Homo sapiens: one gene and its partners. The protein of the gene in region 4 interacts with the protein of the main gene of each other region in a pairwise test. Each region holds a gene or a part of one and is shown on either strand. Other genes may lie near its edges. The genes, in order: FRMD6, GMCL1, PAX5 and TLK2.

What was found.
Region 1: the proteins of TLK2 (region 4) and FRMD6 interact in binary tests that used the Homo sapiens proteins (3 or more experiments, as listed by UniProt).
Region 2: the proteins of TLK2 (region 4) and GMCL1 interact in binary tests that used the Homo sapiens proteins (3 or more experiments, as listed by UniProt).
Region 3: the proteins of TLK2 (region 4) and PAX5 interact in binary tests that used the Homo sapiens proteins (3 or more experiments, as listed by UniProt).

The regions. Positions count from the first base shown.
Region 1 is NC_000014.9:51,717,797-51,725,231, forward strand, and holds part of FRMD6 (FERM domain-containing protein 6), read left to right. Parts: intron 1-2,258; coding exon 2,259-2,594; intron 2,595-4,152; coding exon 4,153-4,284; intron 4,285-7,435.
Region 2 is NC_000002.12:69,839,439-69,846,873, reverse strand, and holds part of GMCL1 (germ cell-less protein-like 1), read right to left. Parts: intron 7,418-7,435; coding exon 7,321-7,417; intron 5,933-7,320; coding exon 5,835-5,932; intron 5,392-5,834; exon of another isoform or gene 5,322-5,391; intron 3,787-5,321; exon of another isoform or gene 3,759-3,786; coding exon of another isoform or gene 3,726-3,758; coding exon 3,613-3,725; intron 2,744-3,612; coding exon 2,678-2,743; intron 2,290-2,677; exon of another isoform or gene 2,007-2,289; intron 1-2,006. UniProt on the Homo sapiens protein: Possible function in spermatogenesis. Enhances the degradation of MDM2 and increases the amount of p53 probably by modulating the nucleocytoplasmic transport.
Region 3 is NC_000009.12:37,024,016-37,031,450, forward strand, and holds part of PAX5 (paired box protein Pax-5), read right to left. Parts: intron 7,319-7,435; exon of another isoform or gene 4,905-7,318; intron 4,073-4,904; exon of another isoform or gene 3,930-4,072; intron 1-3,929. UniProt on the Homo sapiens protein: Transcription factor that plays an essential role in commitment of lymphoid progenitors to the B-lymphocyte lineage. Fulfills a dual role by repressing B-lineage inappropriate genes and simultaneously activating B-lineage-specific genes.
Region 4 is NC_000017.11:62,474,552-62,482,035, forward strand, and holds the start of TLK2 (serine/threonine-protein kinase tousled-like 2), read left to right. Parts: upstream 1-4,273; 5' UTR 4,274-4,739; intron 4,740-4,892; exon of another isoform or gene 4,893-4,926; coding exon of another isoform or gene 4,927-5,062; intron 5,063-6,216; exon of another isoform or gene 6,217-6,236; intron 6,237-6,569; coding exon of another isoform or gene 6,570-6,574; coding exon 6,575-6,655; intron 6,656-7,484. UniProt on the Homo sapiens protein: Serine/threonine-protein kinase involved in the process of chromatin assembly and probably also DNA replication, transcription, repair, and chromosome segregation. Phosphorylates the chromatin assembly factors ASF1A and ASF1B.

The DNA of each region.
Region 1 (7,435 bases), on a different chromosome or scaffold from region 4:
CTTGTCTAAAACACTATTTTAGCATTTTAGTAGAAAATGATCACAAGGATTTTTCCATAGGGTTTAGAAGAGAAACAAAAACATGCCTTGCGTCATTTAAAAAAATGTTAAAGCCTAACTTTATTCAACAGCTGGAGCTTATTCCTAGGATAAGTATTCACATTTACTGCATTATTTTCCAAAGTAGCGTATGAAAAACCTCATTGTCTCTGGGCTTTTACAACAGAGGGAGTAAAAAGAGCACAGGCATGTTGATGATCTGCACTGTTGACACCAGTGATTATTAGGGGGATGAGAGGTTGCATTTTACATTTCTTAGAAAACATTTCAGAATTATTTAATGTTTCTCTCAGTTTGTAACTGAACGGTGTGAAGCTTCCTAAATGTCTGGAAAGGGTCTGGTACAGCACTAGGGAGGGAAGAGAAGCCAGCCATGTGGAACACCCAGGCCATGCTAACATGTTGACAGGAATAGGTAGAAAACAGGCTGGCAAGTACTTGTCTTCTCGTGAGCATACTAGTGAATATAGAGGAACTATAGTGATCTCTGAACCTATCAGGAAGTTGAGAGTAAAAAGGCTATATGTAAAGATACAGAAAAGCTTTTAAATTATTAGGTCCACAGTTCCTAATTATTTTAGAACAATGGAACTCCAACAACTTAGAGACTTTTACTTTTTTCTCTTCACTTGCCACTCATCCAAGGGCCACATGGCTATTGCTGTGAAACCACAGTGAATAAAAACTACAGTAATTTTTGCAAACTGCTTTAGCTGTCCACCTTCATCTCACACCTGCTGATTCAGAAGATGGGGATTGTTAGGCCCCAGTCTGCTCCCTGACAAGTTGTACATGGATGCATTTTTGTTGTGATGATATGTGCGTGGAGCTCTGGTGTCTGGTTTCAGCCTGCTTTCTCTGTAGCAACACATACTCACCTTTGTGTTTCAGCCAGTTCCTTAGAACAATGTGAATAGGCTGGAACCTGGAAATGTGCACATAGCCTTCTCCAAGCATTTTTTTTTTGCATTTTGCATCCTAGAAGGCGCATCTTTTCTTTCTCCTCCTGCTCATTTTCTCTCTAGGGACCCTGTGATGATTATACTTCCGAGCTGGATTCAGACATCAGGCATGCAAGTATTTTCACTTAACCAAGAAACAAGACAATTAAAATCCATTAACAGGCCCCTGAGAACCCAATTAGTCTACTAGTTTCTAAAATCAGATCAACTTCACATTCCCCAAATGCACTCTCCATTTTTAACATTGTTTTATTGTATTATTTCTCACCAGTATTAAAAAGGCAAGGAATCTAAACTTCTTCCTTGTTTTACATTTCTGACCTGAAAGACAAGAATAATATTTTTGTGTCAGTTGAGTTGTAACTGGCAGCTGGGTTGTAACTTTGTGCCTTAATGGAATGGTTAGTTTATATGTAATAAAAGAGACTTTGCAGTGTTGTGTGTTTGACTGCGTTAAAGAACAGCACTGACATGTGAAATCAAAGAACAGCTTTACCAGTCAGAGTTGGAAATCATCAAACCAGTAGTGATTACTGGTATTTTCTAAGTAGATGATAAAGCCTCACTAATTCAGCCTAAGTGGAGAAAATCAATCTTATATTAATGAAAATCCAAATTTTAGAATATTCACAAGAAATTCTCAGAAGAATAGTTTTATTTTAAATTGTATTCAGCAGCTAGAGCTAAGCTAACAGTGGAACAAATTGAACAAATGAACAAATAAAATGAATGGCAATTAGCATAATTGTATTTATTAAGTAGTCTTCTAGAGCAGTGCTTCTGAAATTATCTGCAGAAAAGGGCCAGATTTTTAAAATATTTAATATGCTATGGATACTTTCGCAAAATACAAAATCACATTGGTGGCTGTCATGGCAATGTCACATAGCTCTGGAAGTTTCTAAATGTTCATATCACTCACTGAATTTATTTCACTATGGACCAATAAATTTGCAGACAAGAAGTGGTCTGTAACTGCACTTTAAATACCACTCTTCTTATACTGCTTGAAGCTTTCAAAAAACTAAGTAGTTTAAATATCCCCCTCAAATCTGTTGCACTGGTTTTTATTCATTTTTCAGTCTTCTGAAGTCAAATTCCTATCTAAATTATTACTACTTTCCAATCACTAGATTCTGAATTTGAAGTTATCCTTGTTCTTGGCCTGATGAGTCACTTAAGCTCACCAGCCGTTCCTTCTGTCTTGGTTAATGAACTGTGTTCCCCACCACGTAGAGAAGAAGCAGTACCGGGAATCTTACATCAGTGACAACCTGGACCTCGACATGGACCAGCTGGAAAAACGGTCGCGGGCCAGCGGGAGCAGTGCGGGCAGCATGAAACACAAGCGCCTGTCCCGTCATTCCACCGCCAGCCACAGCAGTTCCCACACCTCGGGCATTGAGGCAGACACCAAGCCCCGGGACACGGGGCCAGAAGACAGCTACTCCAGCAGTGCCATCCACCGCAAGCTGAAAACCTGCAGCTCAATGACCAGTCATGGCAGCTCCCACACCTCAGGGGTGGAGAGTGGCGGCAAAGACCGGCTGGAAGAGGACTTACAGGACGATGGTAACAGTACTGTCCCCTCACTGGCTCTCTGTTTAGTCTCCCAGTTTTTTCAAGCATTGGTTCTATAGAACTGGTGTCTGGAGAGCAACTTTAGGCAGTAGTAATAAAGTGGAAGAGGTGTCTTGTTGTCTTCCCCAATGACTTGGTTGAGTTGCTTGTGTTTGGCTGTGAACAAAACATCCCTCTAGTTGTGATCCTTTGCGGCCACAAGACTGGATGGTTGTAGACTCAGTCTTAGCTGTTTCTATGAAGTAGATTGGAAATTAGTCCTGCTGCCCTTGTGTCTGTATTTCTGCTTCCCAGATTAAATAAAACAGTGGTTAGGACAGCACAGTGGAGTGCAGTAATAGTGACAGAAACATCTTGAACTTCTGGACCCCTCCCCACAAAGTAAAGATTGGAGTCCATGCCATTGAGTTACTTAGTAATGTTTTTCTGAAGCGCCTCCCATGTAACCAGAACTATAGGGAGGATAAAAGAAATATAGCACCTGGTTGATAGGAACTTACTGCATGTTAAGGAGATAAGATGAATCCTATGGCTTATCTTAGCCAAACTTAACATTTGTGTCCCTCTTTTATATTATTTTTCTGTCTCAAATAAGTGCTGTAGCATTCAGGCTTGACGGAAAAGATAGACTTTGTTAAAGAAAAGTGCAGACCATCTTTTTGGTTTCTGTAGAATTTGTGTGGCTCTCAAGTCACTCAGTGCCCTTCAGAATAGGCAGCTATGGACATGGGGGGCTTTGTGAACTGTCATCTGCCTGTGTCAGTGAGCCTTGCTTTGGTATCAGGCAAAGGGCCCATCAGTTTCGGTTTGTCCTTTGTCATTGCAGCAAGGTGGTATAGTTTTTCTTCTTAAAAAATACAGAATAATGGGCAAATTATAGTATTAAAACACATATAGGTAATGCAGCAATCCGATAAGAAAGAACAAGTAGGCCAGGCATGGTGGCTCACACTTGTAATCCTGGCACTTTGGGAGGCCAAGGCAGGCGGATCACGAGGTCAAGAGATCAAGGCCATTCTGGCCAACATGATGAAACCTCATCTCTGCTAAAAATACAAAAATTGGATGGGCGTAGTGGCGCGCGTCTTCAGTCCCAGCTACTCGGGAGGCTGAGGCAGGAGAATCGCTTGAACCCAGGAGGCGGAGGTTGCAGTGAGCGGAGATCACACCACTCCAGCCTGGTGACAGAGTGAGACTTCGTCTCAAAAAGAAAGAAATTGAGAAAGAAAGAGAGGGAGGGAGGGAGGGAAGGAAGGAAGGAAGGAACAAGTAGTACCTGTTGAAAATGGTCCCAGGAAGGAAGGAAGGAAGGAAGGAAGGGAGGGAGGAAGGGAGGGAGGAAGGAAGGGAGGAAGGAAGGAGGGAAGGAGGGAAGGAGTAAACAAGTAGTACCTGTTGAAAATGGTCCCTGGAGTTTCCTATTGGAGTCTCATTAGCAAATTTATTTTCAAATAGGAATAATTACATAGCCACCCTCAAAATATGGTTGCATATTATGATGGTCATTTCCCTTTTTGTCATTAACTATCTTTTCCTTCTTCTGTGTCAGAAATAGAGATGTTGGTTGATGACCCCCGGGATCTGGAGCAGATGAATGAAGAGTCTCTGGAAGTCAGCCCAGACATGTGCATCTACATCACAGAGGACATGCTCATGTCGCGGAAGCTGAATGGACACTCTGGTGAGCTCTTACGGGAAGTTATTCTTCCTTGGTAGCAGGTTATCCAGGACTGAAAAACACATGCCTCAGAAAATAGAAGGGGTGAGCTGGGGGCCCTAGACCAGAGACTGGACTGCACTAAGAGTCTCTTCAGGTCAGTGTTGTAAACTGCAGGATCCTGTGCCTTCTGTGGAAGGCAGGGAAGAGGAGAAACACCCAGGACTGGGAATTAGCATTTTGTGCTCCATGCTTTGGACAAAAGGTAGTTGAACAGTAGGGTTCTCTTTATGTTATGCTGTGTCGAGAATCATATAATGTATCTGGAAGGCCTTGTAGACCCCTTCAGTCTGGCCTCCTTTTTACAGATAAGTTAACCTATAGTTCAAAGAGGACAAATCCAACATGGCTAGAAACAGAAGTAGGCCTCCAGGTTTTTGGGGTTTTTTTGTTTTTTGTTTTTCCCACTGTGTTATACTGGTAGAGGAGTCTGGGAGGAAAAGTGTCAAAATGGGTTGACCTAAAAAGACACTCTTAAATTCCATATTCGTATGAATTCCTGTAGAAAACATGCATTCCCTATAGTTATATAATACATCATATATATTTCTGTTACATGTAAGATACTATCTTTAAAAAACGGCAGCAGTATCAGTTTTGTTTATAGACATCAGTCAGATCTAACTGCTTTTGTCACACATCATGAATCAGTCTGTTCTTTAGAGAAATATGCCTCAGGAACCAGCACTATTGAAATGGCCCCTTCCAGCTTTGATTGAATGAAGGGCCTGACTGAGGTAGCCTGTCCCTGCTCTGGCAAATCCACAGCTCCTGATGTTCATCGAGCCTCCTCCTCCAGGTGCCAGGCACTGGAAATCAGAGAGGAACCAGACCGATACACAGTCACTACCATCCTGGCACTTAGTCTTCAAGAGCAGGAGGCATCTTTTATTTCAGAATTCTGTTCGCTAACCCAACAGAACCCTGGCTTCCCAGACCTGCCTGTAGCTGCAGGGAATCATCTCTCTGACCAACACTGACTCATTAGGCTGCTTACCCTAAACATGCTTAGAGTTCATATACCAAACTTTGCCCCTTTTTGCCCATGTACTTTATGATATTGAATTTTCTCCTATAATTACATTTTAATTTAAATTCACAATTATATGCACATTATAGGTCCATGTATATAGCTCTGTGTGTTTATGCTTGTGGAAAGGAAATGGTCTAAAAACTGTGTATGCCGCAGTGCCTTTGGGAAGGGAGGTATGAGGGAAGCTGACCTGGACTTTGCGTTTATATATTTCTGCATTTAATTTTTATAAGACTGTTAATTTTAAATAGAAATAAAATTTAAGTAAAAAGCCTGGCTGTTTAAGAAGATTTATATATAAAAAAAGTTTGTTGAAATGTTATAAAAATAATTAAAGAATGAGTGGTAAGGCCAGGTGTGGTGGCTCACACGTATAATCCCAGCACTTTGGGAGGCCAAGGTGGGTGGATCACCTGAGGTCAGGAGTTGGAGATCAGCCTGGCCAACGTGGTGAAACCCCATCTCTACTAAAATGCAAAAAAAAAAAATTAGCTGCAGGCCTGTAATCCCAGCTACATGGGTGGCTGGGGCAGGAGAATCGCTTGAACCCAGGAGGCAGAGGTTGCAGTGACCCAAGATTGTGTCACTGTACTCCATCCTGGGCAAAAGAGTGAGACTCTGTCAAAAAAAAAAAAAAGAAAAAGAACAAGTGGTTAAATTATACCTTATTCATACAATGGTATATAACCATTAAATTCGAGATTTTCAAACAATATTTAATAACATAAGAAGGATAGTTAAGGTAAATAGTAAAAATTATATAAAATGTCATCTAATTAAAAACAAGAATATTTATTTGTGTATTTTAAAAACGTAAAACTATTAATAGCCTTTTATTTGGATGTTAGGGTTATAGATATAGATGATTTTATTTTCTTTCTTACATCATCTTAGTTTTCTAAATTCTCTATTAATTTGAGCATTTAAACGTTGCTTATAAAACATTCAGCTAAGTACTCGCCTTGGCAGCACATACACTAAAGTTGCAGTGATACAGAGAAGATTAGCATGGCCCCTGGGCAAGGATGACATGCAAATTTGTGAAGTGTTCCATATCTTTAAAAAAAAAAAAAACACTCAGCTAAGATTGAGTAGTGATGAAGTATACCACACTGTCTTTCATTCTTACAGAGTTTGATAGGAGTTGGTTAAGTGTTTTGAGCATCAGCTCGGTGTTGACTTTTCCAGTGGTGGGTCTGAGTTTGGAGAATACTCTTTACAGGCATGATAGCTGAGGGCACATTTACCAGGAAATCGAAAAGGAACCATGACAACTTGTTTAAAGGTTTAATGCTCTTTAGAAGATAAAGATCGTTCTAGATCCTCTACTAAAGCCATTTGTACTAACTCCTAAAACATGAGTATCCCCTGAGTTTTTAAAGTGTCTACTTGTAAACCAGTAATGTCTTCATATTTCATGTTTCAATTGAACTAATTATTGAATACTTAATATGTTTATGGCATATGCTAGACACTGAGTCATTATGAGATGTTTCTAAAGAGTTAAGGGATAGAACACAAGTCATTCTGTAGACTACTAGCAGTAGTTGAATAAGAATCACATTACTTAAAGGGTTTTTTGTTTTTTTTTTTTAAGAAGCCATTTGGCCTTATGGATCTAGGGCTTGACCTGTAGTACACTTGCTTCATCCATTGGCAAGAAAAATTTCAGCGGTGTTCACTTACACCTCTAGTTCTTATTGGTAATTTTACCTTCTGAGACATGTTTCTACTCAGTGCTTCACTCATATGCCAGTCACATAGGGAAATGTCAGCCCTGGATTTCTGCTTCTGAAATTTTGGCGGGTTTCCACCGAGTGCTAAAGTGCTTAGGTTAGGTGCTCTGTTGTTCTCAAAGACCCAGTACTGAATTTTCACTGTGGCCTCCCAGTTTGTCTCCTCCCAGGGGGATCTGCTGCAGGAGGTATGTGCCAAGTGTCCCATCACCCAAAAAGAGCTGCTGTGAACTGAGTGTATCCATGTATAGTCCCTGTACCTCACCCTTTTATGCATTCACTGTGTAATTATTAAAACTAGCAGGCAGGTGCTGTTATTGGCCCGATTTTATACGAGAAGGAGACT
Region 2 (7,435 bases), on a different chromosome or scaffold from region 4:
CCTGGGCAACAGAGCAAGACACTGTCTCCAAAACCAAAAAAAAAAAGACACTAAAACAGCTATATCGTCAAAGTAATCTTTAACCTCTAGGCTTAAGAGAATTGCTTAGTCATAAACTATGGTTTTAGTACTATTCAAGACAATAAGATCAAGAAACGTGCTAGTTATTTAGAGTGAAAATGATATCACCAGTTATTTGTTTTGTTTTGCTTTTCCTTTGTTCTTTCTTTCCTTTGAGCCATAAAAAGCCAAGAGAGCACGTGGGTTTTTAAGAGGATCCTGCTCCTTTTTCAAAAAGTTCAGTGAGAAATTAGAGTCATCCCCCTGTATCTGTGGGGGATTGGTTTCAGAACCTCCTACAAATACCAAAATCCTCTATGCTCAAGTCCCTTATATAAAATGGCATAGTATTTGCATGTAACCTATGCACATCCTCTCATATACTTTAAATCATCTCTAGGTGTTCTTACAGTACCTAATACAATGTAAATGTTATGCAATAGTTGTCATACTACATTGGGTTTTTTTGTTATTATTTTTTATAGTTTTTCCCCCAAATCTTTTCAATCGGCAGTTGGTAGAATCCACAAATGGAGAACCCATGGATAAGCAGGGTTGACTGTATTAAAGTGTTTCTAACGATTTTCAAATCAAACATTCTACGGTGATTTATTTATGCCTTGACATCACCAGGTGATGAAAGTCTCTCACACTTCTCTACCAAATTATCTCGTAAAGGCAAAAGAAAGGAAAAAAACCCCATAATCTAGGAGGTGGTCTAACCATAAAAAGTAACATTTCTATAAATTGTATCTTGAGAGTTCAAGGAAATTTGAATTCCCTCTATTCCATAATGTATTTAAACATAAAAATATTTACCTCTTCCCCACCTCCTCCCCACCAAAAAAAAAAAAAAAATCAGTAAAATTCACATTCTGGGAAGCTATGTAATGTTTGACTTTGGTTTTGTACATTTCCATCAGAATGTCACATACTCTCGGACACATTTGTATCCTTGTCTCAGAAGCACTGCTGTCAGGGAAATGCAAGCCAGAAAATGACTGTAATGCCAACCAGCCTTCAAAAGTTAACTGCTAGCCAGATTTTCTCAGACCCATCACAAATATCTTAGTCCCATTACTACAAATAAGCTCTTTGACAGCAAGAGACCATGACAAAATCATCTCTGCATTCTTCACAGCCCCTAATAGAGTATCTTTACATATAAAGGACAGTCAGGAAGTACTTGCTGCAGGAATAAATGGATAATATGCGTACTTAATCCAAAAAGCCAAACTAAGCTGGGTGCAGTGGTATGTGCCTATAATCCCTGCTACTTGGAGGCTGAGGCAGGAGGACTGCTTGAGCTCAGGAGTTTGAGTCTAGCCTGGGCAACATACCAAGGCCCCCATCTCTTTAAAAAAGAAAGGCTGCTCTGCAGCTTGGGTGGTGGGCAGGGTGGGCAGTCCTCATTGTCACCGCCATATTTCTTGTAGGTTTTTAGAACCCTGGAATCCATTTCTCACGGGTGACTGCGGTCCTATTATTCCAGCTTGGACTACATAGTCCACAGGTGATGGAGAAATCTTGGACCTCTGGCTCCATCTCCAGGACCTCTGGCTCTGCGCTGTGCTGCGTCTGACCAGGTCCCGCTTGAGGACGAAGGCGGCGCAGTTGACTGCAGGAGCCTCTGCAGCCCCAGCCTGAAGCCTGCATGGGACCCTGTGTGGCGCTAACAGGTTTTTTTTAAAGGAAGATTGATATTTTCTCAAAGAGAGGGGATGTCACTATGTTGCCCAGGATGATCTCGAACTCCTAGATTCAAGCAATCCTCCCACCTTGGCCTCCCAAAGTGCTGGGATTATAGGTCTAGGTTTTCCCAAATCGCTTTTCTGGTAGAGAAACCCTGAGGACTGATTGGCTTTTGCTTGTCTAAAACCATGGCCTGTGAATTTGTAACATTCAGGGACATGGCCACAGACTTCTCTCATCAGGAGTGGGAATACCTTGACCTGGTTCAGAAGACCTTGTACCAGGAGGTGACGGTGAAGAACCATGGTAACTTGTCTCACTCTCACTGAGGCTGGAGAGCAGTGTCGCAATCACAGCTCACTGCAACCTTGACCTCTATGGCTTAAGCAATCCTCCTGCCTCAGCCTCCAGAGTAGCTGGGACTACAGATTTGGATTCAAGGTGTGAAATAATCAGAGATGGAAAAATATACATTTATAGGAGACACACATTTGTTACTCCACATCAGAGAATTCATCCTAGTGAGAAAACGGATCAACATGAAAAGTTTTTGAAGGTAAAAAAAAAAAAAAAAAAAGGCCAAAACAGTTTCTTCAAACTTATTTCTCAATAAAAAAGATGATTTTTAAAATATAACTTTTAAATTCTCTAACAGCCTGGCAAAACCTGAAACTTTTCTATAGTCTTATAACAGTAATGCATTTTTCGGTTAAAACAGTAGACATAATATCCATTATATTATTCACAACAAAGAAATAAGTTTGCACAGCATTTCTTCAGTTTATGGATGTAGTCAAGCCCTTTCATTAAATTGTTTGCTTTTTCATAATATATTTTTGTGTTCTACAAAAATGTTATGTACTTTAACAAATGATAAACAATATTTTAGGATGACTAATTATGAAGTTACTTGAAATTCAAATACCTGAGTTCTTTAAAAAGTTCAACATTCTGGTGAGTCATCAAATTGTTTAGAAGCCATTCAAGGCACCTGAAATTAAAATATATAATTATTACATTATATGCCATGTATTTACAATTTATTAAGTAGGACTTATAGTTAAAATAAAATCAGATTAATCTTGCCAGAACATGCTCAAAACTTTTAGCTTAACAATAGGAAATTTAGTATTATTTTTGTCAGTGGATATTATTAAGAGAATATTTCCTTTATATTAACGAGAGCATTTCCAGTTTTAAAACTTCATTTTGAGTTTGTGTTAAATAGTTTATTAAGGGGTCTGCATACTAGTATAACCTTCTTTAAAATCTCAAAACAGGTACTGCAACTCTCAAGAGTTAGAAGGACTGTCAGTCTATCAGGCCTACTTCTTAAACAATTTTAATAGAAAATATACTATAAAGTGCAGTGGCATGATCACGGCTCATTGCAGTCTTGAACCTCCTGGGCTCAAAGAATCCTCTGACCTCAGCCTCCAGAATAGTGGGGACCACAGGTGCATGCCACCATGCCTGGCTAATTTTTAAAATTTTTTGTAGAGATGGGGTCTCCCTACATTGCTCAGGCTGGTCTTAATCTCCTGGGCCCAAGTGATCTTTCTGCCTTGGCCTCCCAAACCACTGGGATTACAGGTGTTAGCCACCACACCCGACCAAGGTGACCATGGTTTTTATAAGCATGTATATAACCCACCTATGGTCACTTACAAAGACGACACTTTTGAGGAATTTACTAATTAGTCCAAAAGTTAAAAGGGGCTTTTTATTTAATAAAATTCCATCCCCCTATCCTATTTTTCCTTAATTCTTTCTTTCTTATAGCTATACATTCTCTTAAGAAACTAAAGCAACCAAATTCCTAAAAGTGGGATAGGAAGAAAAACAAGAAAGGCAACTCACTTTTTCTTTACAGAATCTAATCCATAGGTCCCTGCTGATGTGTAATAGCCACATACAGTTTTCACATTAACTGTTTCCTTCATTGTCTCACCACACTGCTGTATTAAACCGTCCTGTAAATATAAATAAGCACTGGAAAGGCCCATTTCACGTGGGAAAAATTAGCTCTGACAGCTTTTACATATTAAAAAGTAAAAGAAAAAAAAAAAGAAGAAAGAAAAGAAAGAAAACTCATTAAGTGCAGCAAACCTAAGTTTTTTTTTTTTTTTTTAACAAGTCCAATAAAAATACTGAAAAAAGTTCAGCAAGTATTCAACTAAATACTTGGAATTTGAAAATGGAAGGTGGGGGGGAGTAGTAAGGTAGAGAATGAATACTGCTATTCTTTTTCTTTTCTATTCTTCCCCTGTCTGAGACCTTTGCAAATTTCTTTAGCAGCATTTTGTCTGTTTTGCCATTTCTTTTTAAATTAAGAAGTCTACATAGTCAGTTAACCATGTGATGGGACTAAACTAACAGTATGCATTAGCAGAAAGTGATCAAGTTTAAAATAACTACAATATCTAAGAGATAGACTTAAAACAAGTATATTATTATTTCAAATGATTAACATTAAAGTTTTAACCTAAAATGTTTATATAGGTTTTAAGTGAACTAACTTTAATATATGGGAAGAATACTACTTTTCATTCAAATTTCTGAAATACATTCATCATGCAGGTATATTAAGTTAAAGAGTTAGTAAATCATAAAAGTAAGCAGAAGGTGAATTTAGAACAAAACCAAAAGGACCAGAGTTAGATAATAAAGTATACTTATTGGAAGTAAGTATTGAAAGGATCAAAACATTTTGAAAATCAAATGATCTCAACCAAGGATATTTAGCAAGCTATTAATACTTCAAATAAATCAGTACAAAAATACCACATAAAAGTAAACAATTTTTTAAGATTAAAATAAAACATTGACTCCATTAGGATTTTAAACTTACCTGGAAATCATTCTAGACTCCTCCCCTTTCCTCTTAACATTTAGTCTATCACCAAGTCCAGTGGATTATCCCTGAATCTCTCTGGTATCCACTTTTTCCCCTCCAAGCTTATTGCTACTACCCTACTTTCCTCCCTTGGACGAATGCAACAAGTTTTTGTCTCTAATGCTGTACTCATCTTTCCTTCAATTCATCTGTCACATTGTTACTGAAGTATTCTTTCTAAAACATAACTTCGTCTTTCCCCTGATTAAAATATTCCAAAGGTACTGTGTATGCTAAACTTCTTAGCAATGTATAGATGTATTTTCATGATCTGGCTTCTGCCCCCCTCTTCTGCAATCCTTCTTATGTTTATGTGGGAGCCATGTTTCTGTTAGAGTCTTGAATCCTCCATTATTTCACATCACTAGATCTTAGTTTACTCTGTTCTCTCTGTCTGAAATGCTCTTCCTTCCCCTCTTCTTACTTTGCAATACAAACACACTTTCAAGACTCTGTGTGAAAATGTAACTTTCGTATGTGACACCACCAGGATGAACTGACCACTCCCTTCTTTATCCATTCACTAAATGCTACAGGATGTTTATTATCATACCTATAATATTGAACAGCTCTTACTTTACCTTTGGGTTTGTATATCAACCCTCCCTCCCCTCTCCACACATACATACTATGTTGTGAACTTTTTGAAAGTAAGGATTACGTCTTAAGTTACCTTTGGCTTTCTGTGTCTAGTTTGACACAGTGCTCAACACACTTCTCTTCAATGAACAAATCTGTCATTCTGCCAGTAGATTAAAATACATATATGTGATTTATACACAATTCTTTCAAAATTAAGAGAAATTTAAATAGTAGGCATGCATGTTTATTTGAACCCATGAATGAAATTAATTGGTAATCATAAGCCATCTGCTTAATAGTCAAGTCATTAATGAAATCTGTAAATGACCTTAGACAAGTACGTTTTTTCCACATTATAGTCATACTAAGATATCTACACAGAAATGGCCTGCATTCATTTTATGCAGACATCATGACTCCCTCGGTTGTAATAAATTGCTTTTGGTTAGGCATTTTAAATGATTTATAATAAATGTCATATTTATACATTTCATTTTTATTTAAAAACTCCAAAAAAGCTAAGCTTTATTTTTGTTTTTGGAGTACACACTTTGAGACAAAGATTATTATTCTGAACCTTTCTTCGAATAACGTGCATACTTACCAACTGCAGCAAACAAGCTGCTGCCAAAATGGCAACAACTCGACTGGGCTTTATCAAGACATCATCTCGATACAGTGAACCAAATGCAACCTGCAGTGCTGAAAGCAAGGTACACATGTAGGATGAAATAATATTTATATCTATTACAAGTGTTATACAAATAACAACAACGACTGTCTTCACACACAAAGACATCCGTCTAAATGTGGCATGCACATAAAAGGATAACAGAAGTATCTCTAATTAAAACGCTAGTAATGGTTACTGGTTGACACTGTTAATTTAATAACAAGGTTATAAATTTCTGTTTATTCTACCAAATCTAGCTGCATTCTTCTAACATGTAATCTTGACATCAGTGGTCACAACCAAGATGCCTTGCAAGAAGTTGTATAAGATACTCCTCAGTAGACCAATCGTTAAGTACAAATACGCAGACTCAAAGATAATCTTAACCCGGCTGCTTTCAGCACTCCACCACTGAGAAATGTGGTACAGCTCCTGAGTCCTGTCCATGCCACACTCATTCCCAGCCCCCACAGTGATCTATGCCTGTTCATCCTTCCTCCACTGCCACTGTTATGAATGTCCCACATGGTTTGCTTTGTAAATATTCTTTTTTTTTTTTTTGAGATGGAGTCTCGCTCTGTCGCCCAGGCTGGAGTGCAGTGGCGCGATCTCGGCTCACTGCAAGCTCTGCCTCCCGGGTTCACGCCATTCTCCTGCCTCAGCCTCCCAAATAGCTGGGACTACAGGTGCCTGCCACCACGCTTGGCTAATTTTTTGTATTTTTTTAAGTAGAGATGGGGTTCACCATGTTAGCCAGGATGGTCTCGATCTCCTGACCTTGTGATCCACCCACCTTGGCCTCCCAACGTGCTGGGATTACAGGCTGTAAATATTCTTAACTAAAGTATTTCTTTGCCTTTGTATCGCACCAGGTACTTCCATGTGGACCACCAATGAGGGGAGCAGCAAGAGCACTGGAATGGGAATGAGGAGAGCTGTAGTCTGACACAGGCTCACTAAACTGCTCTGAGATCCAAAATAAGTCCCTTAACTCCTCTGAGCCTCAGCTTCCTCAACTAAGGATTCTTTTAGCTCTAAAACAATATTTTTATTTATTGTTCCCAGAAAACATCTTCATACATAGGGAATAATCAGTATTATTTATCAGATTTTCTATGTAATTAAAAAAAAAAATGGTCATACTTTTCCTTCCTCCATCCTACATCTTCCATATCCCAGGTGGGCATATTTACAAAGATAAGTAAACAAACTGATAAGGCCCAAATGACAAAACAGATTAGTGATAAGATGGACAGAACTGATAAACTATGGTGTAAATCAACATCAAATTATCACCTTGAGGTGATAAAAGGAGTTTTCTAGACTACAAGGCTGGAAGGAATTATTTATCTTCTACCAGAAGAATAAGATTATGTTTTTACGATTGTTGCATAATAGTAATTATTGTGGTAGTTACCTTCTACATCAATGTTCTGGTCAGGAATCTCCAGTTCAATAATATTCATGCTGGATTCTTTCCAAGAACCACTGAACATACTAGAAAAGTAGCCAGACTTAAACAAAAAAAAAAG
Region 3 (7,435 bases), on a different chromosome or scaffold from region 4:
TAATGCCTTTGTCAGATGGTCAGGGAGACCCAAGAACCAGCTCCAGCTGTGCCAATGTGAACTTCTTGAGTCAGTCCTTTTGTCTCTCTGACCTCAATATCATATTCTGCAAAATGGGTGAAGCTGAAGGTTTAGGCCACCGTCAGGTAGGACCCTGGCTATGAGTGTTTTATAACTGGTAAAGATACCTAGGGGAACCGCTCAGGAAGAGAGCAGGAGGTTATCGTGCTGATGAAAATGATGAGCCTGGAATAGTGGGTGGGGACTCCTCCAAACTCAGAAGCCCATTTCCTGGAAGTCCCTGCTCCTCTCCAAAGAAGCTATCCGGCTCTGAAGCAGTGGTGGGGGGAAGCAGTGGTAGGGGGACGGAGGCAGGGAGCGGTAACAGGAAGAAGAAACTGACTGGGCCAGGAGGAAGGTGACGAAGTGGGACTTGATCTGAGCCTCTACTACCTCAGCCACCTTCCAGGATCTACTGTACCCCCCACTCCCCATTGCTAGCAAGTTGGGGCCCCAGAGCAGGCCTACATTGTGCAAGAAAACAGCTTTGGGCCTCAGAACCGAGAGTGCTTCCAGAGAAGCCAAGGTCTTGCACCTGCTCTGGAAGCTAGACTGGCTGGGGCCCAGCCCCCACTGTGCTGCCAGGGAGATTGAAAATGGGAGGGAGCACTTCCCACGGAGGGGGCGATTGAAGGCCGGACAAGGAGGCACAGACATTAGCGGTTGGCTAACCTGCACCTGAAAGAAGCCGCCTTCTCCACACTGATGCTCAGCCGAGAGACCACCAGGTCTGATGCTATCTCCCCAAGGGCTAGGGCACAACCTCTGGGCCACCGAGCGCTGGGCGGAAGGACACAGTGAGGGCCTGTGGATTTCCACCAGTGAGGAGAGAAGTGCAGGGGCTGGTGCTCCCCATCTGTCCCCACAGTTGCTCCTTGGCTGAGCCAAGGGCTTGCTCACCTCTCAGAGCATTGCCCTAACTGGTTTGTTTTGGGCTTACATTGCAAGATCAGGTCCTCCCCAGAGCCAGGCTGGAGTCCGAGGCAGAAAAGGCTGTGGAGGGCACTGGGGTCACCACAGACTGGAAACCGGTTGGGCGCAGGCCCCAAACCTTGAGGAATCGTTTGGGCTGGGACCAGAACAGGGGGCTCCTCTGCACAGAGCTCCCCACCGCTTTGGTGGATTACTTCAGACTCAGAAAATTGACACAAAGAGAAACTGACCTGCCCGCAGCCAGCCCTGGCTGCCTACACAAGCTTTCCCCTGCTTGCCAGGCCACTCAGCACTGCGTGGCAGACACGGACATGCTCGCCCCGGGAAGCTCACCTTCACTCCAGCCGGGTCTCTGCTGCCTTTGTTAAATAGGGGACCTGCGGCTAGGAAAGCTGGATCCCAGGCTGTTGGGATGGGGGGGAGCGGGGTGGGAGGACCAGGCATGGGGACGGCTCCTAGCCCGGGAGCAACTCCCTGACCTGAAGCCCGCAGAGACCCCGAGCGGCACCCGAGCCGAGGCTGCCGAAGCCTGTCACCTTCCTCCAGCCTGGCTCTGCAGCAAACAGAAAGGAAACGCGATTCGTTCCACTTGGAATTTCCTTGAAATCTCCGAATCTAATCCGGCGTTAACTCACCGTGAGAGGAGCGCTCATCTCACAGGAGGCTGTGGTAATGGGTGAATTGGCAGGATCCCTGCGGGCCAGGCAGCCAGGCCGGCCTTGCCCTCGCCCTAAATGACCCTTCCCGTCTCCTACACACGCTGCGTCTTTCAGAGGCGGGGGTGCCTGCGTGGTAACTAATTGGCTTCCTCTTTCTTTCTTTCTTTTTCGTTTCTTATCCTCTTTTTTTAAAGGGGAGAAGCCATGAGAAAAGGCGTCCTGCAGAGAAGGACCCAATGGGGTCTTTAAGGGTCTCTGTATGAACTGGCCGGCTCCTAAGCAGAAGCTGAACTCAGAAACCGCTACTTCCTTGATTTTTCAAAGCCCCCTCCTCAACTCCAGGACGCCTTTGGAGCCCTAGCCCCGGTGTCCTCGCTTAGCTCTCAACCTCTTCCTCCACACATACAGACACGGGTCAGGGCCCCACTATCCCTCCAAGCGCCAGTCTGGATCAGCCCCATGGCTGAAAAAGGCGCCATCGGAGTAGGGGTGTGGGGCGCTGTCTGAGACTCTGACTGGCCTCTCCCTACAACTTACTGCCCTCCAACTGGCCTGGCCCGGAGCCCTCTACGGGTCCAAGCCAGGGTTCTCCGAAAGAGCTGAAATGTCGCCGCCGGAGCCTTGAAAGGCTGCAGCTCGCTGCCCAAGCTACGCGTTGCCGGAGGCGGGATTCCCAGGTGCCTCAGCCCGGGCGGCCAAGTGCGTTGTTTCAGGTCCCCTGCCTGGGATCCCTGCACTTTGCAAAGTTAGCTGCGCGGCTGCAGAGGTCCGAGATCCTTCCGGCCTTAGTACCTGACCCACGGTCCGGCACCCCCAACCCGGTCCCGGCGGGAGAGTGAGAGAAGCGAGCTCGCCGCCTACTTACTATGCATGGATGCAAACGGGTCGTGCTTACAGTGTATTTCCATCGGGGCGCTCCAGACTGCAGGCCGGCCCACGCCGCCGCCTCCCGGCGCCAAGGGGCTGCCCAGGGCGGATAGGGAGCCTCGCCACCAGGCCAGGCACTGTGCGAGCTGGGCTCAGAAAACACTGCTGGAGCTTCGGGGTCTCTCTCAGAGCCTCCCTGCTGGAGACCGCCCGGAGCTGCGCGGAGAGGCGGGAAATGGTGCTAGCGCACCCGGGCTAGGAGCGGGTGCCCAACTCCGGCTGGCTTCCCTCCCTGGCTGGCTCAAGCAGCAGCTCCGGGCCCAGCCCGGGGTAGCTGCGGCCAAGGCGCCCGCGGCTTCGGGGGCATAGCGTAGGGGCCCGCCTCCGGGACAGCCAGCAGCCCCCGGCCCCAGGAAGGAGCAGCTTTGAGGAGGCCGCCGGAACAATCGGCCCTTGACTTCACTCAGGGGGCGGAGAGACCCGGGGGCTGCCAGGCTGGTTCCGCGGCCTCGATGCTTCTGAGGTCCCTCCTCGACCCCTCGGTCTCCGCCAGATCCTTTCTTTCTCTGCTTCTCCGAGTCTCTGGGGCTCGGACTTGCCCCCTCCGCCTCTCTCCAACTGGCTCTCCGACGTCTCGGACGAAGTTGCAAAGAACTTCCTCTCCGGCAGCGCGGGGTCCTGGCGGGTTTGGAGATGCTTCCGCCCCTGACGCTGGGGCCGCGACTCCGGAGTCCCCGGGAGCGTGCAGCCCTCCAACACTGAGACCCGCTGCCTTCAAAGTTCCCGCGGCCCCCGCTGCTCGCCCATCGCTGGGACCAGGAACGGGGACACCAGCGACGGACTCTTCCTCGCCGGGGTGTCTACCTCGTGCCAACCAACTCTTCGAGCCCCGCCGCCCTCCCTCGTGGGTCTGATTCCACTGTCTTTCCGCTGCCTCTTCCGGGACGGCCGCCGTGCCTGCCCCAGGCGTGGAGTGAGGAACAGAGGAGAGAGCAGAGGGTCCCAGCCACCAAGGCCGCCGGGGCTGCCGGGGCTGAGATGGAGCCGCAGTCGGCTCTGACTGCCTGCGTTGCCGCCGCCGCCGCCGTCGCTAGCCCTCCGCCTGCTCGGCGCGCACAGTGCGCCACCGCGCCGCCCCGGAGCCGCTTTCAGGACCCGCTGCGTGTGGACAGCGCCGCCCGGGGCTCAGCTCCCTCCGGGCGGGGGCGGGGCGGGGGCTAACCTGCCAATCACGCTCCACCAAGCCAATCAGAGTGGCGTCAGCCGGCCCTGGCCCGAAACACCGCCCCATTGGCTAAGCAGCCCACAGGCTCCGCCTGATTAGCGGACACCTGGGCAATGGGAGAGAATGGGGGGCGGGGCCCAGGCGGCGGCGCCACGTTCATTGACAAACGCGCTGGACTAAGGCCTAGTGGATCGCGGCTGTGGGGAGGGGAAAGGGGCCCACGCAGTGCCTGGAGAGTCCCGCTGCGGGTCCCACGCGGGCTGGACCTCCCCACAGCGATGCTGGGATCCTGGGACGCTCTCAAGGCTTGAGAGCAGTCGATTGAAGGGTGAGAATGGGGGAAGTCTCCAAAAAAACCAAAAAACAAAAAATGTATGTTGGAGGAAGACAAGGAGCGCAGTAGGGATCCTGTACCATCAGGCTCGTGATGGGATCGGATTGTGTGCATCGGAGTGTGTGCATATCTGCCAGTTCTGACCTCACTTTCCTCTTCTGTAAAATGGGCAGAGTGGGGTTAACTAGATTTTACTGAAGGCTCCTTCCACGGAAATATTTCCTAATTTTATTTCCTAATTTTATCAAGTACCTACTAAACCACCACTGGCTCCTCGTCGTCCACCCTCCTCCCTCACTCCACCTGCAGGGCCCTCATTGCTGCATTAACGAAAGGCAGAGACGTTGGGGGAAGGGGGAGAATATCTCACACTCCTTTAAAGTTAGTAACTGGGGCGCACCAGGGCGCACCTGGGTGGAGGGGCTAAGGCTTTGGGCCAGGTTGCCCAAGCAGAGTGGCTGGCCCTCTTTCCTGCCTCAGATCAGGAACTGCCAGAGGCTTTGGGAGCTGGTGTTGCGCTTCTGTCCACCGGAGAAATTCCGCACCCGGCTCAAGGCTTCTTGAGAACCGAATGAGCCAAGTCGCGTCCAGGGCTAATAAGGGTCCCTGAAGCGGGCGGGTGGACAGGCGCATTCTATCTGCAAGGGTCAAGCAAAGCGGCCAGGCGCGCTGCAATGCGGCAGCTTCCAGTTGATGGGAAACTGACCTTCCCTCTACAGGGGAAGTTCCTGTCCCTATGTAGACAAAATGGATGGATTTGTAGCAGAACTCTCTTGCTACACAAGGGATCTTTGACTAGCGAGTCCGCTTCTTTGTGGGTTTTAAGGCTCTGAGACAACAATCAAAGAAACTGGACCTTGAAAAGGAAGCGTGTGACAGTCATTCTTCACCCAAGAAGCTATAGTTCTGTGAGCCATCTGGGCCCTGGCTCAAGAACGACGCTGAGGATTCCCTTGCCCCAGCAACTCATGGGAGTGGTCCGAAGACTCAATTTCTATTTCATGAGTGATGATCCGCTAATATTAAACATAAATCCACAAAACAAGGGCTTTGAGATGCCTGCTCCAGGACTGGGCTTGTAAGGAAGAGTACAGGCTGATCATGAGAGGATTCCTGGGTTATCCTCTTGTTTTATTCTCTGCCTCGGTTTCCCTTCCTCTGCCTTCTCTCTACGCATGCTCTACTTCTCAAACTCCTACACTGGGGTCGACTCTTGGGCCCACCTTCTGTCCCTGTTCCACACCCAGCTGTCCCTGACCAGTAGACAAGTTTCCGGCGCTGACACCCGTCCCCACCCCCCACCAGGGCACAGCTGCGGAAAACGGCCCCAGGCGGGACTCTGGGGACCCAGGAGGCTGCAGTGCGCGCCGGGGTGGAGTGGCGGCGTTATCTCTTCTTTGTCTGGAACCCCGCCTGTCCGGATCTTCCCCTTTCACCCCCGGCCTTGGAGCAGGAAGATCGCAACAGCAGAGAGGGACTGGGATGGAATAGACTTCCTGCACTGGCTTCACCCGATGGCGCCCAGTGGGTCGGAAATAACCAGAATTCAGATCCTCGGCCCAGACTCAACATGGCGGCTTGCACACCTACTGGAGAGGCGGGAGTGCGGGACGCCCTGAGGGATGCAGCCAGTGACACCCCCACCCCCAGCCTCTCTTGCTGAGCTCAGGCCTACAAACCCAGGTTCTCTAGATTCTTAGAGCTAAAAGGGCCTCGAAGCTATGCTTTCTCCATTTCACGGGTGCAGAACCCGAGGCCCAGAGGCAGGATACGACTTGTCCAAAGTCACACAGCAAGTCTGGGGTAGAAGAAAGGCTGCGGGCTGGAAACCTTTCTCAAAAGCGCCTCTCCAGAGCCGCTCTCGGGATGGTGGGGGAGGGGCGATGCTGCCAAATCGAAGAACTCGGCTGGAATATGCCCGCACACGCAGGTTTTCCTTCGGATACCCGTGAGGCTTGCATAGAATCCCCGGGGCACGGCCCGAGCAGGAGTAGCGCCGATTCTCCCTTTCACACAGTAGGTGTTCGGCTTCGGGACAGTGTTCTGCTGCGTGGCACACACAGGACCCGTCTTACCTGTGCACCCAGAGCAGCCCCTTCCCGCAACTCTCGGCGTTCTTGGGGGAAGGAGTTTCCCTCTGGATAGGGGTGATTCATCACCGCCCGAGCGGGCGGCCTCTGGGAAGTTCCAACCCCAAAAGGCGCGACCGGACCTCATACCGTGACCACCTAGCCCAGCCTTACAGGTCACCAAACGACAGCCCAGAGAGGTTACGTGACTAGCTCGAGGCTGCACAGCAAGTCCATGGTGGAGCCGGGCTACTGCGCCTCAGTCCTGTCTCTGAACGCCCACGAGCCGCAGCCTGGGTCCAGGAGAGCGAGACTAGCAGCTCTCACCGCGGCTCTCAACGCAGTCGGGCCTCACTCTGATCTACAGTGATGCGCTTTCTTTCTCCCAGTAACAGGGCTTTGGGCCGGGCCCTGTGCTAGGCGCTGGGGGCAGGAGACCGCGAAAGGAAACTATCCAGGAAGAAACTCAATTTATGTGAACCGAATTGCCTTTGAAAGTTTTAGTACTGAAAGACAGCCCATTGAGAATAATGTGTGAGAAGCCAGAGACCTCGTTTCACTGGGGACACACCCCCTCCCGGCTTCCCTTTCCACGCCTCCCAGCGCACTGCATTACCGTGGCTTCAGGATGTGGGGGCTGCTACAGTGTTCTAGTAGCCTGACATCGACTCTCTCAACCCAAGTCCAGCCCATTTCCCTGTTCTTGCTTCTGACAAAGTGAGGCCCAATAGGGCTCAGACTGGTTGCTCAGTTCTGGAAAGATCAGGGATGCTGCCAGCATGGCTGTCTCAACCCACTGAGTTCTGTCTAAACTTCATTTTTAAAAAATAAAAAAAATTAAGTATCAGAGGGAAAGAAATTGACCTGAAATTATACAGCAAGTGGAGGCACAGCAGATTCCTGCATGATTCCTGCCCCTGGATCAGGAGTCTGCTCTACTTGACCTGTCCCTGTTTTCAGGAGTTCTTGAAGAGGATGGAGAAAAAATGAGAATTTAACCAGGTTTTTCAAGAATCATGTAAAATCACCTTAGTCGGGGTGTGTTATCATTACCAGCATGTCCTGCAGGCCAGGGGCGCTGGGACTACTCTCTCTCCCAAAGACTTGAGACAGGCAGCCCCTTCTAAAGCCTCTGCTTCCCCGTTTGTTTAATACAGAGAACAAATCCTGAGATGTGACTTCTTAGGCTCTGTGAGATGAAGCTTCATGGATGGGGGTTATTAATATCTATCACTCCATTCCAGGCTCATTCCAGAACTGTGAGACTGGATGTCAATGCCCAGTGGGA
Region 4 (7,484 bases):
GGTGCCAGCCACCACACCCGGCTAATTTTTTTTTTATTTTTAGTAGAGACTGGGTTTCACCTTAGCCAGGATGGTCTCGATCTCCTGACCTCGTGATCTGCCCGCCTCGGCCTACCAAAGTGCTGGTATTACAGGTGTTGAGCCACCGCGCCCGGCCTAGAAGACGGAAGTTTGCATGTTGCCCAGGCTGGTCTCCAACTCCTGGGGTCAAGTGATCCACTGCCTCGGCCTCCCAATGTGCTGGGATTACAGGCGTGAGCCACTACACCTGGCCTCTTTTTTTTTTTTTTTTAAGAGACAAGGTTTCAATATATTGCCCAAGCTAGACTCAAACTCCTGGCCTCAAGCAACCCTCCTGCCTCAGCCTCCTAAGAGGCTGGAACTACAGACAGGTGCACGCCACTATGCTTGGCTCCTGTCTATGGCGGAGGTTGCAGTGAGCAGAGATTGTGCCATTGCACTCCATCCTGGGCGATAGAGCCAAACTTTGTCTCAAACAACAACAAAATCCCCTTAGAGCTCTTTCCTAGCAACCAAACGTTTTTCCATTTTGTTAGGAATTGGAAGAAGAGAGGAAATAACTGGCTAAGTAACTACTCTATATCAAGCACGGTTACAAGGCATTTTCCAACATTATTTCAATTTTAATGAAAGCTGCTCATGAAATTAGGTTTACTGGGTCACAGTTTTCAGATGAGGAACCTGGGACAGGTGAAGGGACAGAATTGGAACCCAGTTCTGTCATACCACAGATGCCCCACCTGTTCTACACTGGCCTGTCAAGAATAACAATAATAATAATTATTATTTTAGAGAGAGGCCTGCTGTGTTGGCCAGGTGGACTGCAGTGGCACGACCTCGGCTCACTGCAACCTTCGACTCCCAGGTTCAAGCGATTCTCCTGCCTCAGTCTCCCGACTAGCTGGGATTACAGGTGCCCACCACCACGCTCAGCTAATTTAAAAAATATTTTTAGCAGAGATGGGGTTTCACCATGTTGGCCAGGCTGGATCTCAATCTCCTGACCTCGTGATCCACCCGCCTTGGCCTCCCAAAGTGCTAGGATTACAGGTGTGAGCCACCGCGCCAGGCCCAATGATTATTTTAAATAATAATTATTTTTTTTGAGACGGAGTCTCGCTCTGTCACCCAGGCTGGAGTGCAGTGGTGTGATCTCGGCTCACTGCAACCTCCGCCTCCTGGGTTCAAGCGATTCTCCTGCCTTAGCCTCCCGAGTAGCTGGGACTACAGGCGCCCGCCACCACGCCTGGCTAATTTTTTTGTATTTTTAGTAGAGACAGGGTTTCACCGTGTTAAGACAGGATGGTCTCGACCTCCTGACCTCATGATCCACCGCCTCGGCCTCCCAAAATGCTGTGATTACAGGCGTGAGCCACCGCTCCCAGCCTTAAATAATTACTTTTATTTTATTATCATTATTTTTGAGACAGGGTCTCACTCTGTCACCCAGAATGGAGTGCAGTGGTGCCATCTTGGCTCACTGCAACCTCCGCCTCCTGGGTTCAAGCAAAATTCTCCTGTCTCAACCTCCCAAGTAGCTGAAAGTACAGGTACGTACCACTATGCCGAGCTAATTTTTGTATTTTTAGTAGACACGGGGTTTCACCATGTTGGCCAGGCTGGTCTCGAACTGCTGGCCTCAAGTGATCCACCCGCCTTAGCCTCCCAGAGTGCTGGGATTACAGGCGTGAGCTACCGCACCCAGCCTACTTTGAAAAATGGGATCATCGGCCAGGCGCGGTGGCTCATGCCTGTAATCACAGCACTTTGGGAGGCCGAGGTGGGCGGATCACGAGGTCAGGAGTTCGAGACCAGTCTGGCCAACATAGTGAAACTCCGTCTCTACTAAAAACACAAAAAATAAGCCAGGTGTGGTGGTGTGCGCCTGTAATCCCAGCTAGTTGGGAGGCTGAGGCGGGAGAATCGCATGAACCCAGGAGAAAGAGGTTGCAGCAAGCTGAGATTGTGCCACTGCACTTCAGCCCGGGCGACAGTGTGAGACTCTGTCACCAAAATAAAATAAAATAAAATAAAATAAAAAGATCCTCTAGCCCAAATCCCTCCATCACAGAAGCAGTTGGAGAAGTTTGAAAAGGTTAGATGATAGGCCCATGTGGCTTGTCTGTGGAAAGAGCTAGGCTGCAAGACACCTCTGACTCCATTGAGTGCTTTCTCTTACTCTCCTTTCCCGATTTAAGACATTAAATCATTTAAGACAGTGTCATTTGGTCGAGTGCGGTGGCTAACGCTTGAAATCCCAGCACTTTGGGAGGCTGAGATGGGCGGATCAACTGAGGTCAGGAATTCGAGACCAACGTGGCCAACATGGCAAAACCTCGATTCTACCAAAAAAGAAAAAAAAAAAAAATTAGCCGGGCCTGGTAGCGCGTGCCTGTAATCCCGGCTACTCAGGAGGCTGAGGCAGGGAGAACTGCTTGAACCCGGGTGGCAGAGGTTGCAGTGAGCCAAGATCGCACCACTGCACTCCAGCCTGGGCGACAGAGCGAGACTCTGTCTCAAAAAAAAAAAATTTTTTTTAAAAAGACAGTGTCATTTGATGGAGTTGCTTTCTTGATCGTTGGCTGCAATTAAAGACCTAGCCTCACTGTCTTTTGTGTTGCCTTGGACCGGCTCTTAGGTTCTACCGCCCTAACAGGCAGTGGAGGCTGGCCTCGAGTGGTAGTCCTCCATCTTGCCCTCTTTTCCTACCCTCTACCCCCAACCCGCGAGCTGCTCTCCTGTCTTCTTCCAACACTGTTCTCTTTGGGAATATGCATGTCCAACTTCCCAAGCAGTCTGGGATCTGGAGTAAGATGACTCTTGGTTTAATGAAGTTTTTCCACAGTGCTTGCATGTGCCCCAAGGGTTTGGAAGGTTGGAGAACTAACAAAAAGCAAAGAGCCATCCTGTGTCGTTTCGGCAGGTCTGTGTTCTGTTAAAATATGGAAGAATTAAGAGAAGAACGAAGAAATAAGGGCAGAAACTCCACTGGGGAGTACTTGTCTAACCCTGAAAAAGTTCAAGGCTGTTGTTCAAGGTCTGAATTTTTCCCTTGAGATTTGCTTGTAGTCCTTAAAGTCATCTTCAGACATCTGATCAAGGCAGCATCCGCGGAAAATTATAAGGTGGGTGGCTGCACTGGAGCCTGTCCTGGCTCAGGGGCGCCGGTGAAGAGTGATTTTTTTCCCTTGGCCTTGGGGGATCAGAGGGGGTGCCCTCTGCTATGCAGGAAGCCCTCCTTGCCCGCTAGATAGTTCTCATTCCTCAGGAGATACTCTGTGAGGGGCCGGCGTGTTTTCTCCATCTTGGCACTTACCCTCAGACCCTCCTAAGTACCCGGGAGGGCCGTGTTTTTCATCGGAGGTTGAAATGGAACCTCCCCCTGGGTGCCCGGGGAGAGTACCTTGGGGGCAGCGCCCCTCCTTCCGGAGGGCAGCATCCCCGCGGGGGCGGGGGCTCGGCTTTGATCCCAGGGCACCTTTTGTCCCTGGAGACGCTCTGCCAGCCAGGTACGTGGAGGGAGTGCAGCCCGCCCTCCCGGGCGACGCGCGGGGCTGGGGCGGGCCGGCGGCTCCGGGGAGTGGCGGCCGGGAGCCCGCGAACGCGGGTGGGCGCCGTCGCCTCACTAACCGGGCGCCTCCGGGAAGTCCGGGCGGGGTCCGCCGCTCACACATAGGATTAGCGTCCTCTAAACTCCATCCCTGGGAAAAGCCGCCGCACTTCTCACCCAAACTCGCGGAGCCGAGGGGCTGGGCAGGGGTTGGGCGGGCGCGGGGGCCGGCGAGGCGGATCCGGGAACGGGTGGACCCGGGCGGCCAAGCCCCTTCAGCGCCGGCCCAACCGCCCCGGCCCGGGCCAGTCCAGCGGGGCGGGGGCCGGCGACACAAAGGCGGCGGCGGGTCCTCCGGGCCTCCGGCCTCGGGCAGTCGCAGGGCGCCCCGGGCCGCCGGACCTCCCCTCGCGTTGCGGCCCGTCAGCCGGCGCCGCCCGTCGCCCGCCCTCAGCCGTCCGGCGAGGCGCGGCTTCCTCCGCCGGCGCGGGGTCCCCTGGTTAACCCCTGCCCGGCAGCGCGGCCGCTGATTGGAGAAGGCGGGGCGCCGGGGCAGCGGGGACCCCCCCCCACCTTCCTCGTCCCCTCCCCCTGCTCCCCCACTGTCGGCGCTTCCCCCACCCCCCCAGGACCCCCCCCGCCTCCCAGCCGTGCAAATCTCGCGAGGAAACACGCGGTTTCACTAGTGTGTTTACACCGATCACTACTAATCCGGACCGAACCGATCCGGATTAAGGGGCCGGAGGCGGGTCCTGGGCACCAGCGGTTCCGACCCCCCCGCCCTCCGCGCCGCACCCGAGTGGCCCCCAGCCGAGCGGGCCCCCACCTCCTGGCCCGGCCTGGGCCCTCCTGCGCCTCCCTTGGCCTTTGTCCGGCGCCAGGAGGCCGGTCCCGCGCCCCCCGCGGCCGCCCGGGCCCGGGCCCGCGTCGGGCGCCTGGCTCTGTACGCGAGCCCGGGGATCTGCGGCCTTCGTGCCCCCCCTCCCCCGCCCGCCCTCTCGTGGAGCCCGGCGCCGGCGGCGGCTGCCCGGGCGGGGGGTTGCGGCGCTCAGGAGAGGCCCCGGCTCCGCCCCGGGCCTGCCCAGGGGGAGAGCGGAGCGGTCCGCAGCCGGGTCGGGTCGGGGCCCCTCCCGGGAGGAGCGTGGAGCGGCGGCGGCGGCGGCGGCAGGTGAGAGGCTGAGCCCCGGGCGGGGGAGGACTCCAGGCCTGGGGCATTAACCGTCCTGGGGACCCCTTTGGCCTGAGGAGCCTGCGACCTGGGCCCAGCTCGGGGCCGGCTCCGGACCGCAGCTCCTGGGCGCTGAGGCGGGAGGGGCTCCCTGAGGGCTGCGGGTCGCTGAGGGGCCGGGCAGAAGATGGGGGAGGCCCAGGCGGCCCCGGCCTGGGATTGGGGCCGGCGGCCGGAGGAGAGACGGGGGCCCCCAGGCAGCTGGAGGCCTCGGCAGCCTCCCGGGCGCCCCCGAGAGCCGGCCCTCCCTTCCTCCGTGACAGGTGGGCCTGGAGTTGGGGAAAGTTTGGAGCCGGCGAGGGGCGCCGGGACCAGGCCCCATCGCTCCTGCTTCCCGGCTGTGGGCTGCAGGGAGGATCCCAGTCCAAGGCCCCGCTGGAATTAGACGGAGTGGCTATTTCCTTAACATGAGTTGACATTAAACGGAATAACCGCCGGGGCGTCATTTTCCGGGCCGGGCCTGGGGATGGAGGTTTGGGAAGTGTTGCGAGAGACCTTGGGGTTTGGGAGAGACTGCAACCTTTGCCATTCCGACCTCGATTAGGGCAGGGCAAGACGCGAGGAAGGCCACGGGGGAAACTCATTCTCCCAGTCTCTTTTTTTTCCTTCTTTTTCTTTTTGTAAAGATGCATTTCAACCTTTCTGAGAATTTCCTAATTCTCTCTCTAACCTGCACTTGCATGTGTGGGTGAAACTTTAATTTGTCACCTTTTCATTCCCCTTTGCCCCAGGCTCTCAATCCAGGAAGGGAAATGAAACTGAAGGACTTGTAAGGGGGTTGTTACTGGAGATTGTAGAGTTGTTGGATTGCAGAGGAGAATGTTCGATTCATCTTTTCAGTAACTTTAAAATCACACCAACCATTCCAACTACTTAATAATGTGTTCGAAGGGGTTCTATGTAATATGTTTCTTTTCCACTGTTAATATTAAAGAGAGGTTTTAAATGGGTCGTGTAGGAGTTGGTCTCTTGCAAAGGATGAACATATTTGCTGAAAGTAGCCTGTGCATTAATTGGTTATGGAAGTTTAAAAATGGTGTCCTCCTGCCCCTCCCTGCTTGGAAGAAGGGCTAAAAGCAGATGTCCAGAATCAAGAGAAAACTACTGCAGGGAGTGGTCAGAAAAAGATTTTTTAAAGGGATTGTTATGGAGCTATATTAATTTACTGAGTGAATGGAGGTGGATGGTTTTACCGTGGGCTCTCTATTAAATTTAAAATAATTCCTTTTCTCATGAGCTACTGTGAGCTCTTCAGAGACAGGAGCTGTATAATAGTGATTTTGCAGTTATTTGTAGCTTCTGATTCATCCTATATTCTTTTGAAATTATTGTCAATGATTCATATTTTTAGTTTAAGGACTACTTCCTGAGTGGGAAATAAATATCTGAAGATACTTAGCTAGATTAAGGCTGATAGAAGGAATTTTCTTTTTGCAGGCTAGTTCTTGTTTTGTTCTTTCCCCTGTGCTCAACTTTTACAGAAATTATATGAAGGGTTTGAGGGGTTTATTTTTGCTGTTAAAATCAAATCAGAACTAGGGAAGAAAAAGTGGCTGTCATAGAAGAGGACTTCTGAGCTGCTTTAAAACTTTTCAATATATTACTGTTTGATGCAGCACATAGTAGTCTACCACTTGTATGCTATATTTACTTGAGATTTACCTGCATTTGATCTTTCAGTGAAATAATTACTGTGAGTTTTGTTCTACAGAAAATTGCCTCCTCACATTTTAGTGTTTATGGTTTCACAGCCTACTTTTTCTTTTTCAGCAGAAATGATGGAAGAATTGCATAGCCTGGACCCACGACGGCAGGAATTATTGGAGGCCAGGTTTACTGGAGTAGGTGTTAGTAAGGTGAGTAAAATGATGATCATGAACACTATTCATATTCTAATTTAAACACATTTTTTAAATGATTAAGAGCAATTTGGGTAGGCCCTTCTGATAGTTTGCAGGGGAGAAGATTTGGGTCTTAATTTCAGTGAACTTTTAGATCCTACTGGTCATTCCAGTAGTCATTTAACATAGTAGGTTTGAAAATGTTCTATATGGGAATATATGTTTCTTCTTCCTTTCTGGTATAGGAGAGGTTTCTCATGGTTCTTGTTACAAGGAAACTAACAGGATGTGTGTATAGATTCTATGCCATATTTTGTTAAAACTTGTCAGCCATTCAGAAAGAAAATTACAAGGCATTGCATAGCTTTGTTACATTGGACTTTGGAGGTAGTTACATGGTAGAGTATTGAAAAATTGGCCTCTGTGAAGTCTGCAGACTCTTTACTGGTTGCACCCCCAGACTGGTTTGTTGCTCTTCTCATTCTTCCTTCTTAGTTTTTATTTTTGTTGCAGGAGCATAATATTAGATTAGGCCCCCATTAACGGGCACGTATGAAGTTAAGCAATGTTATAGTTTCCTATGCATGTTTATGTACCCACTGGTCCACCCCTCTGCTCTCATAGGATGATTTTACAATGTGTAAAATGTTTGATTTTAATACAGTATGCAAAGTATATTTACGATATTTTATTTAAAAGCTTTATTGGTCCAAGATCATATTACTTGGGCTTGAGATGTGTGAACGTATGAGCTACTGAATTTTTTTTTTTGAGACAGAGTTTTCCTCTTGTCGCCGAGGCTGGAGTGCAATGGCGTGATCTCGGCTCACTGCAGCCTCCACCT